Regions from separate parts of the Homo sapiens genome. Here regions 1, 2 and 4 are each reported to be linked to region 3. Evidence: microRNA targets listed by miRTarBase, many of them from high-throughput screens and not tested one by one. Region 3 holds a microRNA gene; each other region holds the end of a gene's coding sequence.

What was found. The annotated mature microRNA hsa-miR-5701 reads UUAUUGUCACGUUCUGAUU and lies in region 3 at 2,501-2,519, opposite strand. An mRNA with a match to its seed (bases 2 to 7 or 8) in the 3' UTR can be bound and repressed. Matches are read on the target gene's strand: a 7mer-m8 pairs with bases 2 to 8, a 7mer-A1 pairs with bases 2 to 7 and ends in A, and an 8mer does both.
Region 1: the mRNA of SH2D1A is a reported target of hsa-miR-5701. Seed matches in the 3' UTR shown: 7mer-A1 at 1,909-1,915 and 7mer-A1 at 1,967-1,973.
Region 2: miRTarBase lists INF2 as a target of hsa-miR-5701. Seed matches in the 3' UTR shown: 7mer-m8 at 4,987-4,993.
Region 4: the mRNA of TOP1MT is a reported target of hsa-miR-5701. Seed matches in the 3' UTR shown: 7mer-A1 at 834-840.

What each region holds. Positions count from the first base shown.
Region 1 is chrX:124,370,566-124,375,713 of GRCh38, forward strand. SH2D1A (SH2 domain containing 1A) reads left to right here. Exons shown (of 4, transcript NM_002351.5): 4 at 786-2,595. The coding sequence ends at 826. Among named protein-coding and RNA genes, the nearest start is that of SH2D1A, 27 kb to the left of the region's middle.
Region 2 is chr14:104,714,461-104,719,608 of GRCh38, forward strand. It overlaps INF2 (inverted formin 2), which reads left to right. Exons shown (of 23, transcript NM_022489.4): 21 at 1-396; 22 at 824-880; 23 at 4,335-5,148. The coding sequence ends at 879. Among named protein-coding and RNA genes, the nearest start is that of ADSS1, 7.2 kb to the right of the region's middle. RefSeq lists an enhancer at 216-1,155.
Region 3 is chr15:21,511,339-21,516,486 of GRCh38, reverse strand. It overlaps MIR5701-2 (microRNA 5701-2), which reads right to left and starts at 2,528; the gene lies at 2,447-2,528.
Region 4 is chr8:143,305,050-143,310,197 of GRCh38, reverse strand. TOP1MT (DNA topoisomerase I mitochondrial) reads left to right here. Exons shown (of 14, transcript NM_052963.3): 13 at 1-130; 14 at 655-874. The coding sequence ends at 757. Among named protein-coding and RNA genes, the nearest start is that of ZNF696, 16 kb to the right of the region's middle. RefSeq lists enhancers at 1,891-2,391, 2,392-2,892.

The DNA.
Region 1 (5,148 bases), not on the chromosome of region 3:
TTGTCTGTCTCATCTTGTTCTTTCCTGTCCCTTTAATAGGTAGCTAAGTATGATTTCACTTCACTAATTCAGACACAAATAATGTGAAAGATGGTATAATTCAGAGAACACCTGGGCTGTCCTTTATCTTTGCTTAGTAAACTGTTTTTTCCTTCAGGGACATGAAAGCTAACGTTAGCCTGGCACACATGATTCTGATTTCTGAATTGGTGGTGCTTGAATTAATGACATTTTTCTGAAGCAAAGGAAATTAAATAGTGCACTTTATTGTTCCACTGGCACATATTGTTACATATCCTGAGCAAACCTATTTTAGTGTATGTGTCGTGCTAAAGACTGAATACCAGCCAATGTCTGTAGCTATCTGATACGTGACTGTTTACTCCTCTATTGAATGGGGTTTATCATTTGTTTGGAGTAAGAGGATAGGCCTTGATTGAAACAATAAATATTTATGATAAAAGAAAACGAGTCCCTTTTTGACAGGGACCTAGGCTCAGGCATAAACTGACAATTAGACTCAAGTGGTGAATTAAATTAATGAATAGTTAGCCTTTATAATACAAATGCAAATAGAGCTCTAATTTCCAAGTTGGCTAGTTGTTTTTTTCTGCCTAATATTCCATTCTTTATAACTCAGTTTTAAATAATAGTTGCTTGAGGTATATTACTGTGTTGTGTCATTGTGAGTTTTATGCAGTTGGAAATTTTATAAGTTTGAGTTAATCTGTAATTTTAATAGTTTGTAAGTTTATTTTTTCTTGATTTTTGTTATTTTTCTTTAGGGATAAGAGAAGATCCTGATGTCTGCCTGAAAGCCCCATGAAGAAAAATAAAACACCTTGTACTTTATTTTCTATAATTTAAATATATGCTAAGTCTTATATATTGTAGATAATACAGTTCGGTGAGCTACAAATGCATTTCTAAAGCCATTGTAGTCCTGTAATGGAAGCATCTAGCATGTCGTCAAAGCTGAAATGGACTTTTGTACATAGTGAGGAGCTTTGAAACGAGGATTGGGAAAAAGTAATTCCGTAGGTTATTTTCAGTTATTATATTTACAAATGGGAAACAAAAGGATAATGAATACTTTATAAAGGATTAATGTCAATTCTTGCCAAATATAAATAAAAATAATCCTCAGTTTTTGTGAAAAGCTCCATTTTTAGTGAAATATTATTTTATAGCTACTAATTTTAAAATGTCTTGCTTGATTGTATGGTGGGAAGTTGGCTGGTGTCCCTTGTCTTTGCCAAGTTCTCCACTAGCTATGGTGTCATAGGCTCTTTTGGGATTTTTGAAGCTGTATACTGTGTGCTAAAACAAGCACTAAACAAAGAGTGAAGGATTTATGTTTAATTCTGAAAGCAACCTTCTTGCCTAGTGTTCTGATATTGGACAGTAAAATCCACAGACCAACCTGGAGTTGAAAATCTTATAATTTAAAATATGCTCTAAACATGTTTATCGTATTTGATGCTACAGGATTTGAAATTGTATTACAAATCCAATGAAATGAGTTTTTCTTTTCATTTACCTCTGCCCCAGTTGTTTCTACTACATGGAAGACCTCATTTTGAAGGGAAATTTCAGCAGCTGCAGCTCATGAGTAACTGATTTGTAACAAGCCTCCTTTTAAAGTAACCCTACAAAACCACTGGAAAGTTTATGGTTGTATTATTTTTTAAAAAAATTCCAAGTGATTGAAACCTACACGAGATACAGAATTTTATGCGGCATTTTCTTCTCACATTTATATTTTTGTGATTTTGTGATTGATTATATGTCACTTTGCTACAGGGCTCACAGAATTCATTCACTCAACAAACATAATAGGGCGCTGAGGGCATAGAAGTAAAAACACCTGGTCCCTGCTCTCAGTTCACTGTCTTGTTGGACGAGAAAACAATAACGATAAAAGACAGTGAAAGAAAATAACGATAAAAGACAGTGAAAGAAAATAACAATAAAAGACAAGGAAAAAATAACAATGAAAGTTGATAAGTACATGATAAGCGAGGTTCCCCGTGTGTAGGTAGATCTGGTCTTTAGAGGCAGATAGATAGGTCAGTGCAAATACTCTGGTCCATGGGCCATATGAAAAGGCTAAGCTTCACTGTAAAATAATAACTGGGAATTCTGGATTGTGTATGGGTGTTGGTGAACTTGGTTTTAATTAGTGAACTGCTGAGAGACAGAGCTATTCTCCATGTACTGGCAAGACCTGATTTCTGAGCATTTAATATGGATGCCGTGGGAGTACAAAAGTGGAGTGTGGCCTGAGTAATGCATTATGGGTGGTTTACCATTTCTTGAGGTAAAAGCATCACATGAACTTGTAAAGGAATTTAAAAATCCTACTTTCATAATAAGTTGCATAGGTTTAATAATTTTTAATTATATGGCTTGAGTTTAAATTGTAATAGGCGTAACTAATTTTAACTCTATAATGTGTTCATTCTGGAATAATCCTAAACATATGAATTATGTTTGCATGTTCACTTCCAAGAGCCTTTTTTTGAAAAAAAGCTTTTTTTGAATCATCAAGTCTTTCACATTTAAATAAAGTGTTTGAAAGCTTTATTTACCTAATTTGTCTTGAAATATTCCTTATAATTCCTTATAAAATATTCAGAGACTGATGCTATTAATAAACCAAATAAAGGATTGATGATTATCTTATCGGAGTGATTCCCTGGAAAAGGTAAGTGCTTTTCTGATTTTATTGCTGTCCAAGTTCCCGGTTGATGAGCCTACTTCCTGTCTTCTTTGGCTGGCCTTTTATTCATCAAGTTTTTTTTTTTTTTTTTCACCTTTTCTTTCCCAACATGAGCATCCTTGCTATTTTCCAGTACGTAATCACTTGCACCTTTACAGAAAGGTCATATCCTTGCTGTATCTAAAATATTGCCATGCTAACATATTGTAAGATGCTGAGTCAAGGTAGAAAAATGCACAATATATTTCCAAGTGTGCAGCTCTCTTCAGAAAAAAAAAAAGTGTGTCAGCAAGCCCAAAAGGAACATGACAGCTTATCAAATACTTATTCATTTCCTCTGAAATTTGTTCTTAAGAGATAAGGTCAGTAGGGAGACAAGCTTAGGTAATTGTCTGTTTGGCTGTTACAGGCAGGGAACCTTTGTGGTAGTGCACAGGTAGAATAAGTCTATAGAGAATGCCTCTGATTAAGTCCTCTGCTATAAATAAAGGGCTGGATTTAAGATATTCTTTCGGGTAGAATGGACACAGAATTAAAAATGTGAGAAACAGCTTTAAACTCTGTTAATAATGTTTCAACATCAGCTTATGTTTTATTTGATTCACTTCGTTAAGCTTAGAATCCAAAGTCTACTACTAGTAAAACCCAGATTTGCCCTTGAGCATTTCAAGGTTATAGGATGCCTGGTCTTCCTGTTAGGATGCTATACATTCAACTTTGACACCTATGTTTTCTCTTGCAGTAAATGGGATACCACTATTTTGTAGTTTGCAACTAGGGGGGAAGTTAAACTACCCAGTTTGGACATTTTCCTAATTTGGGGTGATTGGCCAAACTTGTAGTAAAAGGCTGAATTCTTATCATTAGGTCATTTAGTTCTTAAATGAAGATTTTTTTTTTAATGTAGCAAGATATAATAAGGCTGACTAACTGGATAGAGTCCATTAACATATATGGAATTGAGATATATATATACATCTTGGTTGCACACATACACGCAGAAATAGAACTGTTTTCTCACAAGATGACAAAAGGCTATACTACGTATCACATTCAGTATTGGACAGAGAGAGTAAAAGCAGGAATGCATAAGAACTGATTTTTTTTTCTTTTTCTTTTTTTAGTCACCTGGTGGGCCATTTAAACATTTTATTTATTTATTTTTTAATTTTTATTTTACTTTAAGTTCTGGGATGCATGCGCTGAATGTGCAGATTTGTTACATAGGTTACATGTGCCATGGTGGTTTGCTGCACCATCAACCCGTCATCTAAGTTTTAAGCTCTGCACGCATTAGGTATTTGTCCCAATGCTCTCCCTCCCCTTGCCGCCCACCGCCTGACAGGCCCCAGTGTGTGATGTTCCCCTCCCTGTGTCTATGTGTTCTCATTGTTCAACTCCCACTGTTTTTCATCTTTGTCACTGATTATCCACGTGACCTTAGGTAAGTCAGTCTGTTACTGTTACTGCATTTGCCAAGTAGGAATAATTAAGTCGTACTAACCTCACAAGATTATTAAGGTACAATAATTTACATATATGTGTGTGCGTAATTACATATATGTATAACTTTAAGGTAGTAATATTACTGAATGTTTAAATAACATTGACTGATAGTCACAGATCTCTAAAAGGGAGGGTGAATAGGGAAGGAATATACAAACGTCTCCTATTATAATTCTCTCTCTATAGGAGCTCCTGCCCTTTTAAAAAATACCCTGAGTGTGAGGTGGGATGCATATTTTGAAAAAAATTTCCAGATGATTGATACTAACAACCCCCTACCCCCATTGTTTTTTACTGATGGGTTGTGTTGAGATGATCAAGGTTGTCTTCTGCTCCATGAGTCTTTTCACTCTCTCTCTCTCTCTCTCTCTCTCTCTCTCTCTCTATATATATATATATATATATATATACACACACACACACACACAGACACACACACACACACACACACACATAAAAAAGCAGCAGGGCATTTTGAAGTGGTGTAAATTGCAGGATTCCAAGTTTCAGTAATGGGTTGTTTGGACTACATGTGCTCCGCGAGTATCAAGATGAATTTTTGAAGATCTGTTGGCCAGATTTCCCAGCGTCACTTGTAAATGTCTTCTTGTGAAAAACAAGTGCCAAATGGCAATTGTAATTGCATAGGATTTTTTTAGTGTTTCATGATTGCCTCCCCTCCCTGACACCCTTCCCCACTGGCTGCTGCCCCAACATCCATTATTTTTTGCCAGTGCATTTGGACACCCTGAACTCCTATATATCTCTCCCACCCCGTTTTTATAATTTTTTATTTTCTTTCTATTGCTGAGAAAGGCACCAAAAGGAGAGGGAAGCCTTTTTAAAGGAAGTCACAGCCTAGAGGCATTTAAATTTGCAGCAGCTACTCTTCTTTGTTTATTAAATGGTCACTTGTGTCA
Region 2 (5,148 bases), not on the chromosome of region 3:
CCTGGCCGGTGACTCTGGGAGATGCTCAGGCCCTGAAGCCCCTCAAGTTCTCCAGCAACCAGCCCCCTGCAGCCGGAAGTTCAAGGCAAGATGCCAAGGATCCCACGTCCTTGCTGGGCGTCCTCCAGGCCGAGGCCGACAGCACAAGTGAGGGGCTGGAGGACGCTGTCCACAGCCGTGGTGCCAGACCCCCTGCAGCAGGCCCAGGTGGGGATGAGGACGAGGACGAGGAGGACACGGCCCCAGAGTCCGCACTGGACACATCCCTGGACAAGTCCTTCTCCGAGGATGCGGTGACCGACTCCTCGGGGTCGGGCACACTCCCCAGGGCCCGGGGCCGGGCCTCAAAGGGGACCGGGAAGCGAAGGAAGAAGCGTCCCTCCAGGAGCCAGGAAGGTAACTCAGGGAGGGGCCCCGGGCACCGTCCCACGCCAGGGCGCTGGCACCCAGCCGGTCCCTCCCCTTCCCCATTGGGCACTGCAAGTTCCAGCGGCACCCAGGAGAGGTGACTTGGGTGCGGCACGGGAGAGGAGGCGGCAGTGCGTCCACCGCAGGGCGGCTATGTGGGCTGCCGCGGCCCGTGCAACTATTCCTCCAACCTACTAATTCCGACCTTCACGCCACCTCCGTTAGGGAGTAGGGGGCGGACACCGGGCACCAGGTCCCAGGCAAGTGGCTGCCATGTGGCTTAGTGGCCAGAGAACCGGGCAGCCCTCAGAGGGTGTTGGCATGGCTGTCCCGGGCCCCCCAGCCCCACCCACTCCGAGTCAGGGTTGCTTCTGTGTGATAAGCCGTTGAGTGCGTTTCTTTTATTTGGAAGCAGAGGTTCCCCCTGATTCTGATGATAATAAAACAAAGAAACTGTGTGTGATCCAGTAAGGTATGTACGCAGCCGGCGCTCCGTGGGGGCTAACAGCAGCTGCAGGGCAGTGGGGCTGGAGCTTGCTGCCCACACCCCTCCGGGACACTAACCTGGCTTCTCTCCAGCCCGCGTGGTGCGTCAGTGTGGCCTTGCCGCTCCCGCAGCCCTGGTGGTGGGCTTCCCGCCCCATCCCCTCCCTCTCCGCAGGTTACCTGCTCAACTGGTGCCTCCTGCAGGCAGGACGCAACCTCAGTGCTGGCCCCGGGCATGCGGGCCTCGAGAGGGCAGGTGGCAGGGCCAGCCGGACTCCCTTAGCAAGCAGGATCCGGGCCCTGGGGCGTGGGCGGGACCTCCTGGCTGGCAGGACAGGCTGAGGTTGCTCCTGTCTGGTGTCCTGGCGCTAACTGCAGTTCCAGTAACCCTGTGGCTTTCCTGCTCTGTCTGTTGGTGGAGGGCTATCTTCACTCTAAGTGTGTCAATGGCGTGGGGCCTTCTGGGGCATGTCCCCAGGAAGTCTGTGAGGAGACCGGGACAGTCGCAAGGGCAGATGCTGCCAGGGACAAGTACACTGCAACCCCCCTCCTGTTGGACAGTGTCCTCCCACCCCGAGGCCATGGGTGGGTCTATGGAGAAGCAGATTACCCCCCGCACACCGAGTCTTCTGGGGGGCGACCAGCCAAAGGTCAATCAGCCAGGTCCGTCCACAGGGCTGGAGAGGCCAATGCATCCAGCTAGACAGGACCAGCCTGCACTGGGTGGAGGAGGGGCTAGAGCAGAGAACCAGAAGGTCCAGCCCGGCCGATCATGAGCTCTGTGAGCCCAGGTCGTGGCGTCTTCCAGCACCTCCAGCCTTGCTCAGAGCCAGCCCGGTGTCGGTGCATCACAAATATGCTGACCGCTGGGCCTGGGGCTTAGGCTCAAGGTGCACACCTGAGGTCTGCTGGTGCCCATCAGAGGCAAGAGCAGTCGTGACCCCGGAGAAGCTTCTCCGGACAGCTTGTCCTCGCTGTTGGGGCACGGCCTTCACCCTGGGTTCCAGCTTTTGCTTCCAGGGTCATCTTCCGAGTGTGGCTCTCTGGTGTGAAGCACCCACGTGTACTTTTTAGAAAGGTGCTGGCATCTCCCTTAGAGGCTGGAACTTGGACTTGCTGGCCCTGAGTGTGAGGAACAGTGGAGCATGCAGGTCTGGGGCGGGCGGCCACATCTGACAATGGTCCAGTGAAAGATGGACGTGTCCAGTGCCAGCTCCACGCTCCACCTGGTTCCCTCCTGAACCTGCTACACGTGCTTAGCCTCCACCCGCCCCAGCTCCTGCCACGCACGTGGCTGAGGGCAAGAGGAAGAAGTCCTCTTCTCTCCCCAACTTTTTATTTTTTATTTTTTTTCAAGACGGAGTCTCACTCTGTTGCCCAGGCTGGAGTGCAGTGGTGCGATCTGAGCTCACAGCAACCTCCACCTTCCAGGTTCAAGTGATTCTCCTGCCTCAGCCTCCCGAGTAGCTGGGACCACAGGCACACGCCACCACGCGCGGCTAATTTTTTGTATTTTTAGCAGAGACAGGGTTTCACCATGTTGGTCAGGCTGGTCTCGAACTCCTGACCTCAGGTGATCCACCCGCCTCGGCCTCCCAAAGTGCTGGGATTACAGGCGTGAGCCACCGTGCCCAGCCCCCACCTTTTTATTTAGAAAATCTTCAACACCACAGGAAACTGCATAGATCAGAATGAACAACACCTTCTCCCCGAAATTACAACCATTTGCCAAAAATACCAAAATTGTGACCATTTTGCTACATTGCCCCCCTCCAACTGAGGCATCTGAGAGTTTCTTATAAACATCATGGCACTGGAGCCCTAAACTCGCCCACAGACACCTGAGAGCACAGCCGTCTTCCTCAGTCCCCCCCGGGCAGGGTGCGCTGCCGTCCTCCCAGTCCGCCCCCACCGGGCAGGGTGCGCTGCCGTCCTCCCAGTCCCCCCCCCGGGCAGGGCGCGCTGCCGTCCTCCTAGTCCGCCCCCCCGGGCAGGGTGCGCTGCCGTCCTCCCAGTCCCCCCCGGGCAGGGTCCGCTGTGGGGCGCTTCACGTCCACATGCTTCTAATACTCGGTCCCAGTGCAGATGTGCCACTTGCCCCAATAATTCCTTCTCTAGTTGTTGCTTTGTTGTTTTTGCAAACAAGATTGTATCCAGAGTCACATGCTGTGTTTGGTTATCATATCACTTCAGTCTCTTTTGTTCTAGAACATTCCTGCCCCTTTTTGTCTTGTATGACATTGACGTTCTGGAAGATAACTTCACTTTGGGTTTGCCTGATTGCGCCCCCAAGTAGGTCCAGGTTGAGTTTTGGGGCAGGAGTTCTACCCCAAGGGATGCCATGTCCTCCCCAGCTGGGTGGGGACGTTTGTGGCAGCAGCGCTGACCACGGCTGCGGGGGTGGTTTCTGAACCTCCACTGCACGAACACCACGCTGTCTGGTTAATAAGCACCGGTGGTGACCTGTGGAACCAACCGCTGCAGCGCGGTTCTGTGTTCGCCGCCCCTCGTCCGAGCGTTCCCCCCTCCCCTCCCTTTTTCCATCACGTGAGTTTTGAACGTGCAGTAATCCTTCACTGCCACTGCCGTGCATTTGATGGGGACCAGCGGGGGCCCTGAGCGCTTCCCATCTTTGGCACAAGCCCCTGTTCCTAGCTCACCCCAGACTTGCTGATCCCCCCATCCCTGCACGGGCCTTGGTCTTGGCCATTTCTCCAGGTTCCCTGAGTGGGGAATGGTGCTGAGACCCTCCTTTGAGTGATTGTTTTGGATAGTTTTTGTTTTCTTGCTGTCTGTTTAGAGTAGTGGTTCTCAAACCCTGCTTGGGCCATCCCACTGGGGAGCTGGGACACCACCTGGCACTGTGGTGGCAGTGGGGGTGACACTCAGACAAGGGCCATCGAGGGCCCCTGGACCAGAAAGCGAAGAGGGCGTTGGGGGCAGGAGGCCTGTGGGGCCATGTGTGGGGGCCGTCTGGGTGGCGGGAGCTGTTGGGGCAGGGCTGAGCGCCCTCAGCAGCCCACTGGAGAAAGCGCTGCTGGGGTCCTCGTGTGGGGCCCAGGGCCCGACGTGGAAGCAATGGAGGGCTGCAGGGGGTGGCAGTGGGGATGAATGAGTAAGGACAGAGTGCAGCCTGGGTCTCAGACAGGGGGTGGGGGACAGGCCACAGAGATTCCCTATCTCAGCAGAGAGGAGACAGGCTCAGGCTGCCACGCCTTGCCAAAACCCAGCCTGGCCAGGCCAGCCCGGCACCTTCCACCTAGATAAGTTGTGCTGCTCCAGAGAAAGAGCCTGGGGTCAGAGTGGACCTGCGATGCATGGCACAACCTGCTGGACAGTGGCGATGAGGGGTTCAGGGACCTGGGCACCCAGAAGCGGGCACCTGATATTGTACCCAGCAAAACTGCTCCTAATAATGTCATTTTTTCTCTCTCTTACAGGCCTCAGGCCCAGGCCCAAGGCCAAGTGAGAGAGCCCAGGCCACAGGACATGCTGCCATTCTGCCAAGAGAGGCTCTTCTGGGGGCCAGGCTGGGACTGGGCCCCGGAAACCAAAACTCCGTGCCTTACCCAGCCGGGGCCCTCCTGGAGCCTTCTTGGGGTGTTGTGGCTGGGAACCCGACAGGCACCAGTGCCCTGCCAGGCCTGGTGCCCTCCTGGACCGCCTGCACGTGCCAGCCTCCCACCTGCTTCCTAAAGGCAACCCTGGCCCACACCCGCATGCGCCCGGTGCAGCCTGCCAAGGGCCAGTCGGGGGGTGCTGCGTCCTGCCAGTGTCCACCACAGCTCTGCCTGCCCTTCAGCCCAGCAAGGTTTAATCAAAATGCAATGCTTTGCAAGTCTTTACTGCTTGGAGGTGGCTGAGTTGGGGGCCCTGGGCAGGGGTAAGCTGGCAGGCAGTGCCATGGCAGGCCAGGGTCCCCTCCCATGGGGTCTGGCCCCCGTTCCAGCATGTCCAGCCCCTGAAGTTGGAGTGGGGGGCGGTCTGCCTTTGCTGCCACTGCCAGGCCTCTGCCCTGCAGCTGAAACTTGGCCATCACATCAACAGAAAACCCCTCCCAGTGCCAGCTGCCCAGCGTGGGCAGGCCCTGGGGACAATACAGGTCCACCTGAGGGGCTGCAGGGTGACACCCAGCAGCCGCTGCCCCCTCACTGCCCACCCAGCGAGGGCAGCCTACCCGAGCCTGCCCCCTGCCAGGTGTGTGCCCTGAGGCTGGCGGCTGGATGCGTGGCCAATAAAAAGCAGACCTAGCCC
Region 3 (5,148 bases):
CAGCCCTGCCCCTGCCATGGCCGCAGCTGGCCGTCCTCCTACCGCTCTGGTGCGAGGTAGTCTCGGTAGCTGCCACCAACCGCAGCAAGGCGAGCAGCAGCCCCAGGCTATCTGCAAGCTTCCAGCATGTAACTCCTCCTCCTGGCATGGAACAGCTGGACACACAAAGCCAAAAAAGCCTAGAGGAGAATGCAGAGACTGATAGCGTTAGAGCCTCACCTTGTCATCCTGGCCACTGGGTGGCAGGGGCCAGTCTCAGTGAAGGCACTCATATCCACCCTCCAAAGTCCAGCCTCTCCTTTTGGCTCAAGCGGGCCAGGAACTGGGACCTGGAGTGGTGACTGGTAACATCACACTGCCTGGCTCCAATCCACAGGAACCGCTGGGCCCACCAGGACTGCGCTCCTTGGGGAACAAAATCAGCAGGAACTCAGACACAGCCAGCCCTCCCACCCAAATGCCGGTTCCCCATCCTGATGCCTCCACCCACAGAGCCCTGTCTCCCCGTGGTGTCCCCGCCACTCCGTGTCCAGCGTGCCTAGGGGTGCCAGGTGGTCTCCGCAACACAGAGCGAAAAGGGCGTGGCCCCGGGAACCACGGCGGGTAAGGGGTCCTTGCCGTGCTCAGGATTACTGCGGAAACGCCGTGCGCTCGCTGCGCTCTAGCAGGAGCAGGAGGAGATCGCCTTTTAGAGTCTGAAATCCAGAAAGAGGAAGAAGGCTCCTTCCTTGGAGACCCTGTTGCTGCAAGCTCTGCCGCCACCAGCAAGGCAGCCCCTGATGGCGCCCCTAATCCGCTGCCTGATGTTGGCTCTGGGATAGCGCCCCCAACACCGCCCCTCGCCGCTGCAATGTAAAACCCAATAGCGCCCCCAACCCATCCCTGCCTCGGACGTCGCAGCACCAGATAACTCCCCCATCCTACCGTCTGCCGTCGGCCATGCAGCCACGGATAGGACCTCCAACTAACCCCCGGCTGCGGGCAGTGATGCCCCGGAGAGCACGGCCACCTGCTCCATGCCGTCAATAGTGCAGCCATGGATCCTTAAGGTCCCCAACCCCCTCCCCACGACGAGCAGTGCAGCCCTACATAGCAGATAGCACCCCCAACTATCCCCCACTCAGGGGGAATGATGCCCTGGATAGTGCACCCCACCCGCACCCCGCCATGGGCAGTGCAGCCTCCGACAGCACCCCTAACCTGTATACCGCTGCCAAAAATATGGTCCCCGATAGCACACCAAACCCAGCCCCCACCACAAACAGTGCAGCAGCTGATAGAGCACCTAACTCGCCCCACCGCCACTGACCACAGTGCAGCCCCCGAACGGTGCCCACAACCCACCCCACCACCCCGCCTGCCACCGGCCGGGTATCACCCCCAAACCGCCCCTTGCTGTGAGGAGTGTATCCCCTAGTAGCGCACCCAAACCTGCCCTCTATCATGGGCAGTCTGGCCCGATAGTGCCCGAAACCGCACCCTCCAAGCACCTACCCGCACCCACCGCTGCCCCGCCCCACCACCAGCAGTGTAGCACCTGATACTGCCTCTAACCTCTCCCCTGCCATGGACATTGCAGCCCCACATAGCGCCCCCAACAAGCCCCCACCATGGGCAGTGCAGCCCCAGATAGCATCCCCACACCGCTGTCAGCAATGAAGCCCGACCAGTAAGCACCCCCACCAGTCCGCACCCTAACCAGCCCTCCCACCACCATGCCGCCGGCAGTGCAACCACAATAGCAGCCCCAACCCGGCCCCTGTCGCGGGCAGTGCAGCACCCAATAGCGCCCCCAACCAGCCCTACTGCTGCCATCAATACAGCCCAAGATAGTGACCCCAACCCGCCCCCCACCAACCCCCCCCCCACCCGCTGCTGAGGGCAGTGCAGCCCCGGATAGCACACCTAAAAGCAGTGACGCCCAAAATAACACTCTAGTACACCCAAAGTAGTGACACCCGGAATAATACCCCAACCAGCCCCCGCCGCGGGCAGCCCTGGATAGCTTACCTACCCCATTGCCTTTCTACACTCTGGCCAGCTGCAGTATCCGTCGCTGCCACCAACCACAGCGAGGCCAGCCAGGGAGGCGAGCCAGCGAGGCCAGCCGCAGTCCTGCAGGCTCTAGCCTACAGCCTATGGTAGGTGCCTTCTCCTTCTTTCCTTCCTGTAGCCAAGCACGGAGCAGCTGTCACTGCCAGCTGCCTCTCTCCATTGCCACCACACACCATTCAAGGCTCCAGGGCTCCAGGTTCCAGGCTCCAGCCTGCGGCAGCACACTCTGCTGCCGCTTTCTCCAAACTCTGCGGGAGAAGTAGAGGCTAACACACGATAGCCTGCAACAGCGCGACGCCCCCTTAGCATAGCTTATATACTGGGGGTTGTGCAGGCCTGGTTCTCGGACTTCACGTTCTGATTGGATGAAAGAAACATCTACGCCTACTCTGATTGGACGTTATTTTCATGTTCTGATTGGATCAGAACAAGTCTTAGGCTAACCAATCAGAACGTGACAATAAAGTCCAATCAGAGTAGGCCTAGTGTTTTCCTCTCATCCACTCAGAACATGTAGTTTATAATCTCGGTATATAAAGCATGTTAAGAGATAGAGTTGCACTAGTCCAGCCTCGTCGGCGTCTGACTTCATAGCTGCTCCATTGCCAGCTTGGAGTAGGAGGTGCCAGCCACTGCATGCTGGAGGCTGCAGCCTACCGGGCTGTGGCTGGCCTCCCTGGCTCACCACCTCGCCGGCTTGCCTCGCCTTGCCTCGCTGGCTTGCCTTGCCCGCTGCGGTTGGTGGCAGCGATGGACACTGCAACCGGCCAGAGTGTAGAAAAGCATCGGGGTAAGTGGCTATCCAGGGCTGCACTGCCCTTGGCCTGGGACGGGTTTGGGGCCCTATCTCAGGCGTCACTGCCCACCTTGGGTGGCTGGTTAGGTGTGCTATCTGGGGCTGTGCTGCCTGCACCGGGGGGTGGTTTGGGGGCCCTAACCGGGGCTGCACTGCCCTCGGCGGGGAGCCTGTTGGGGAAACTATCCCAGACTGTATTGCTGGCAACAGTGAGGTGGGCTAAGTGTCCTATCCAGGGCTGCACTGCACGGCTGTTGCGGGGGGTTGGTGGTTTCAGGTTGAGGGTGCTATGGGGTGCTGCAATGCCCGTGGTTCGGGGAGGCGGGGCGGTTTGGGTGTGTTGGGTGCGCTATTGCGGGGGGGCTACACTGCTGGTGGCAGGGGGCAGGGTGGGTTGGGGGCCATATCAGGGGCTGCACTGATTGCTTTAGCTAGGGTTTCCAGTACTATGTTAAATAACAGTGGTGACAGTGGGCATCCTTATCATGTTCCAGATCTTAGAGGAAAAGCTTTCCATTTTTCCCCATTCCATATGATTCTAGCTGTGGGGGTCTCTCATGTGGTTTTTATTGTGTTGCAGTATGTTTCTTCTGTACCCGTTTTTTGAGGATTTGTAGCATGTTCCCCAAATTGAATATACCATTTTTTAAAAAGAGACTGAGTCTTGCTGTTATGTTGCCCAGGCTGGTCTCAAACTTCTGGACTTACGCGATCCTCTTCTGCCTCAGCCTTCAGATAGCTGCAGCTATAAGCATGCACCACCGCACCCAGCTTGAAGGTACTGTATTTTTAATTCCATATTGTCAAGCGTTTAAGTTACTTTTCTTTAAAAAATTAATATTAATTCAAAGGAAGAAATTGGCAGAGTGAAAAGACAACCTACAGAATGGGAGAAAATATTTGCAAAGTATGTATCCAGCAGAGGATTAATATCCAGAATATACAAGGAACTCTTGACATCTCAATAGCAAAAAAAAAAAAAAAAAAGAACCCAACTGAAAAATGGGCAAATGACCTGAATAGATATTTCTTAAAAGATGACAGACACATAACCAACAAATATGTTTTCCTAAAAAGCTCAACATCACTAGTCATCAGGGAAATGCAAATCAAAACCACAATGAGGTGTCATCTCACCCCACTTAGAATGGCTACTATCAAAAAGACAAAAAATAGCAAATGCTGGCAAAGATGTGGAGAAAAGTGAACACTTAAATGTGGCTAGTGGAAATGTAAACTAGTACAGCCACTATGGAGAACAGTGTGGAGGTTCCTCAAAAAACTGCAAATAGAACTATTATATGGTCCAACAATATATTATTGGACATTTATCCAAAGAAAAGGAAATCAGTATATTGACGAGACATCGGCACCCCCGTGTTTATTGCAGCACTATTCACAATAGCCAAGATATGGAATCATCCTAAGTATCTAACAACAGATGAATGCATAAAGAAAATATGGTATACATACACAATGGAATACTATTTAGCCATAAGCAAGAATGAAATCCTATAGTTTGAGGCACATGGATTGAACTGGAGGACATCATATTAAGTGAAGTAAGCCAGGGACAGAACATTAAGTACTGTGTGTTCTCATTCATTTGTGGAAGCTAAAAAAATGTTGATCTCATAGAGGTAAAAAGTAGAACAGAATACTACAGGCTGGGAAGCATAGGGTGCAGGGATGGTAGAAAGCAATTTGTTAAAGGTTTCAAAATTACAGCTAGATAGGAAGAGCAAGTTCTAGTGTTGTATAGCACTGTAAGATGACTGTAATTAACAACAATATGTTACACAGTTTCAAAGAGGAGGAGGATGTTGAATGTTCCCAGCACAAAGAAATGATAAATGAGATTATGGATATGCTAATTACCTCGATTTGATCTCTGCAAATCTATGGGAATGTTACTATGTTATTCATAAATACTAATAAATACATCAAAAATTTTAAAATTAATAATGAACAAAAGATAAGGGGCCCTGAACTCTAGCTTTAGGGCTGAATTGTATCCAGTCAGATGGTTTATATGTTATTTAAACTTTCACTTTAAATTTGGAGTGGAAATATGTTTGGAAATCCTTACTTTTAGTATGTTGATTTGTGTGTGTGCGTGAGGTAAATCTGGTTGGCTATTGGCAAATGTACTGGGTAGCTACTTAATAAAACATTTCCTTCCAGTGTTTCAGCTTTCTGATTCTTAGAACATGTGTATATTTAACATAATATGCATTATCACTTTTGAAAGTAGTTATTCTAACACTTATTTGTGCTAAATTAGAATATGAATTTGG
Region 4 (5,148 bases), not on the chromosome of region 3:
GGCTCCTGGAGAAGCTGCAGGAGCAGCTGGCGCAGCTGAGTGTGCAGGCCACGGACAAGGAGGAGAACAAGCAGGTGGCCCTGGGCACGTCCAAGCTCAACTACCTGGACCCCAGGATCAGCATTGCCTGGTGCGTGTGCCTGGGGTCTCAGTTCCCACCTGTGGCCTATGGGGGGCCTGGGTTTTCCAGGAGGCCTCTGTTCAGTCCCAGCATTGCCCTTGTCCCGTGTCCCCTGGGGTCAGCACAGGCCCTCCCTGTGACAGGGACCCATGATGCTGAGTCCTGTGTCATCAGCTCTCCCTGCCCTGAACGTTCGGATGGACAGGGTGAAGTGGGGGTGCTGACAGTGGCCTGGGACTCGGAGGCATCAGGAGGGCCTGTGGAGCTCAGCCTGCCCACAGGGAGTGGGAGGTGGCTGAGCGCCCTGCTCGGTGGACACCTAGGCCACAGCAGGTTGTCTTTGACACCTCGCTGATGCTCCAGGGTGGCGGCATGCGTGGGGTGGGGTTGGCCTAGAGGAGCAGGTCCCAGCTACACCAGGCGGCTCTGGTGTCTCTGCTGCATGGAGGACGCTCGCCCTTGCCGAGCACCCTGACCTGGCCTTCAAGGTGGGTGAGTTGCCTGCTTGCCTGGGCTGATGCTGCCTCCCGCAGGTGCAAGCGGTTCAGGGTGCCAGTGGAGAAGATCTACAGCAAAACACAGCGGGAGAGGTTCGCCTGGGCTCTCGCCATGGCAGGAGAAGACTTTGAATTCTAACGACGAGCCGTGTTGAAACTTCTTTTGTATGTGTGTGTGTTTTTTTCACTATTAAAGCAGTACTGGGGAATTTTGTACAATAAAATGTGTGCAAGTGCTTGTACATCACTAGAAAAAGTCCCCAGGCCGGCCGGGCACGGTGGCTCACACCTGTAATCCCAGCACTTTGGGAGGCTGAGGCGGGCGGATCACAAGGTCAGGAGATCGAGACCATCCTGGCTAACACGGTGAAACCCCATCTCTACTAAAAATACAAAAAACTTAGCCGGGCGTGGTGGCGGGCGCCTGTAGTCCCAGCTACTCGGGAGGCTGAGGCAGGAGAATGGCGTGAACCCGGGAGGCGGAGCTTGCAGTGAGCCGAGATCGTGCCCCTGCACTCCAGCCTGGGCGACAGAGTGAGACTGTCTCAAAAAAAAAAAAAAAAGAAAAAGAAAAAGTCCCTAGGCCAGGCACAGTGGCTCATACCTGTGATCTTGGCATGTTAGAGGCCTGAGGCTGGAGGATTGCTTGAGCAGACATTGAGGCTGCAATGAGCTGTGATTGCGCCCCTGCACTCCAGCCTGGGCAACAGAGCAAGACCCCATCTCAAAGAGAAAGAAAAGTCCCTGACGCCTGCCGTGTCCTTTGAAGCCTCCACCCCGAGCATGGAGTCTGCTGGGCTGTCACATCCAATCAGCGTCCCAGCCTGGACCCCCGGTTCCCGCTCGACAGGGGAGGAGAAACACCTTCGTGTGCTCTGAGGCTGAGGACTTTGGGTGAGGATTCCACATTTGCGCACGCGCCACCCTCTCAGCGGGGCCCGGACTCTTCACCAAGTTCTTTAGCGCCTGGAATTCAGCAAGGGCACAGTTGCTGCCTGGTCACTAAGCCCAGCGGCCCCCGTTCAGTTCTCATCACCTCCACACTCTCCATACGTAGCTCTTAGCTCTTACGATGGCCTTCTGCCTGAGCTTCCCAACCCTGTATCCTCTCAGAGCTGCCTGTCGGCTGCCCTCTGCCACGCGGGATCCTCTGCCGCCCTCTCTGCCACGCGGGACCCTCTGCCGCCCTCTTCTCTGCCACGCGGGACCCTCTGCCGCCCTCTTCTCTGCCACGCAGGACCCTCTGCTGCCCTCTTCTCTGCCACGCGGGACCCTCTGCCACCCTCTCTGCCACGCAGGACCCTCTGCCGCCCTCTTCTCTGCCACACGGGACCCTCTGCTGCCCTCCTCTGCCACGCGGGACCCTCTGCTGCCCTCTTCTCTGCTATGCGGGACCCTCTGCCGCCCTCTTCTCTGCCACGTGGGACCCTCTGCTGCCCTCTTCTCTGCCACGTGGGACCCTCTGCCGCCCTCTCTGCCACACGGGACCCTCTGCCGCCCTCTCCTCTGCCACGTGGGATCCTCTGCTGCCCTCTTCTCTGCCACGTGGGATCCTCTGCCATGCGGGACCCTCTGCCGCCCTCTCCTCTGCCGCCCTCTCCTCTGCCGCCCTCTTCTCTGCCACGCGGGACCCTCTGCCGCCCTCTCCTCTGCCACGCGGGAACCTCTGCCGCCCTCTCCTCTGCCACGCGGGACCCTCTGCCGCCCTCTCCTCTGCCACGCGGGACCCTCTGCCGCCCTCTCCTCTGCCACGCGGGACCCTCTGCCGCCCTCTCTGCCACGCAGGACCCTCTGCCGCCCTCTTCTCTGCCACGCGGGACCCTCTGCTGCCCTCTCCTCTGCCGCCCTCTTCTCTGCCGCGCGGGACCCTCTGCCGCCCTCTCCTCTGCCACGCGGGACCCTCTGCCGCCCTCTCCTCTGCCACGCGGGACCCTCTGCCACCCTCTCTGCCACGCAGGACCCTCTGCCGCCCTCTTCTCTGCCACACGGGACCCTCTGCTGCCCTCTCCTCTGCCACGCGGGACCCTCTGCTGCCCTCTCTGCCACGCGGGACCCTCTGCCGCCCTCTCCTCTGCCACGCGGGACCCTCTGCCGCCCTCTGCTATGCGGGACCCTCTGCTGCCCTCTCTTCTGCCACGCGGGACCCTCTGCCGCCCTCTCTGCCACGCAGGACCCTCTGCTGCCCTCTTCTCTGCCACCCTCTTCTCTGCCACGTGGGACCCTCTGCTGCCCTTTCCTCTGCTACGCAGGGCCCTCTGCCGCCCTCTCTGCCACACGGGACCCTCTGCCGCCCTCTCCTCTGCCACGTGGGATCCTCTGCTGCCCTCTTCTCTGCCACGTGGGATCCTCTGCCACGCGGGACCCTCTGCCGCCCTCTTCTCTGCCACGTGGGACCCTCTGCTGCCCTCTGCCACACGGGACCCTCTGCCGCCCTCTCCTCTGCTACGTGGGATCCTCTGCTGCCCTCTCCTCTGCCACGTGGGATCCTCTGCCATCTGCTCCGCGCTTTGCTTTCGGGGCTGCCTCTGTGGCTGTCTCCCTCACACCGGGGCTCCCGCCAACCCCATGAGGCAGCCCCTGTGTAAGGCTCCTGGTCAGCCAAGAGGACCCCAGCGCCCTGGAGGCTGCACCCCCATCCCTCCTGCTGTGGGGCCCTTGGTGCTCCAGGCCCGAGTCTCTCACACCGCGGCTCACCCGCTGCCCCAAGGGGCTCCGGCAGCAGGTCCAGCTCCTCCCGGGGCCTGTGACAGAACAGTTCCAGCAGGGGGCTCTCACGTCCCCACCTGCTCCCAGAGAGGTGCTTCTGTGCCCAGACATGGAACAGCTCCACAGAAAATGAGGGCACTGGCCGAGCAGGCCCAGACTCCAGAAGGGAAACCACTGAGGGTGCAGGCCCGACCCACATCACCTCGGAGTCTGTCCTCGCGGAGACGGTGATGGGCCTTTCCCTCTCTGTACAGATGAGGACACACAAGGAGCTGACTTCATGCCTGGACATTAAGCCCAGGAATTCCCAGCCTAGAGCTGGCTCTCTAGGTTGCGGGGTCTGGTCCCAGTCCAGAAACATCTCCCAAGCCACAGCTCAGGACACAGCAGGGTGGGGGTCGAGGGGGTGAGTGGGAGCTCCAGGGAGAGGCCCCTAAGGCTGTTCCCCGTCATCAGAACTTGCAGGCCAGTGGCCTCTAAAGGTACTCATTAGAGGGGTGTGGACCTCACTTGCCCAAAACCCCGGGACTGCTCAGCGCATCCTTCTGAGACGTGAGGCTGTGACCACCTGCTGCCTCAGCGTCCCCTTCTCACCCCGAACAACCTGCCTTTAACCCAACTCTCCAGACTGACACGATCCCTGTAGACTGTCAGAGCCTCGTTTGGATAGTCACAGACTACCTGGATAAAAGATAAAACATGGCCGGGCGCGGTGGCTCACGCCTGTAATTCCAGCACTTTGGGAGGCCGAGGCGAGCGGATCATCTGAGGTCAGGAGTTCAAGACCAGCCTGGCCAACATGGTGAATCCCTGTCTTTACTCAAAATACAAAAATTAGCCAGGCATGGTGGCAGGCACCTGTAGTCCCAGCTGCTCAGGAGGCTGAGGCAAGAGAATCACTTGAACCTGGGAGGCGGAGGTTGCAGTGAGCTGAGATTATGGCATTATCCTCCAGCCTGGGCGACGAGTGAAACTCCATCTCAGGAAAAAAAAAAAAAAAAAGATAAAACATGCAGAGTAGAAACCCCAGGTGGACAGATACCTGTCCCACCCAGAGAAAAGCTGGGTGGTGCCATCGACGGGCAAAAGTAGTGGAAAAGCCAGCTGCGTGTGCTGGTGCGAGATGCGTTTCCATGATGGAGGATGCCGCGCACTCAGCCTCTCCTGTTATCCTGTGGCCTGCGAGCCCTCTCTTAAGTGCACCAAGAGCAGCAAGGGACTTAGAGCAACTTCATTCACTGCTGCCCAGGCGGAAAAGGGCGCCCAGGCCCTGCAGCTGGAACTGGGTAACAGGCCGGGTGGAGACTCACACTGGATCCCACTCAGCCATGATCACAAGAACAGAGCGACTGCTGCTCGGGTCTCACGGGCGACTGACAGCAACCGGGAGCCCTGACGCCTTCCCGACACCCCCTGTTCCATCCACGAACAGGCACGCCCGCCGTTGTTTGAGTTTTTACATGTTGACACCCCCTGCTCCATCCACGAACAGGCACCCACCGTTGTTTGAGTTTTTACATGTTGACACCCCCTGTTCCATCCATGAATGGGCAGACCCGCCATCGTTTGAGTTTTTACATGTTTGTGAGTAATGTTCCATCTCAACAGCCTGGGCAACATAATGAGACCCTGTCTCTCCCAAAACAAGCAAACAAAAACCCCCAAAATTAGCTGGGCATGGTGGTGCGCGCCTGTAGTCTCAAGCTACCCGTGGGGCTGAGGTTGGAGGATGAGCCCGGGAGGTTGAGGCTGCAGTGAGCTGTGATTGTACCACGGCCCTCCAGCATGGGTGACCCTGGCTTAGGAAAATTTGTAATAATAACA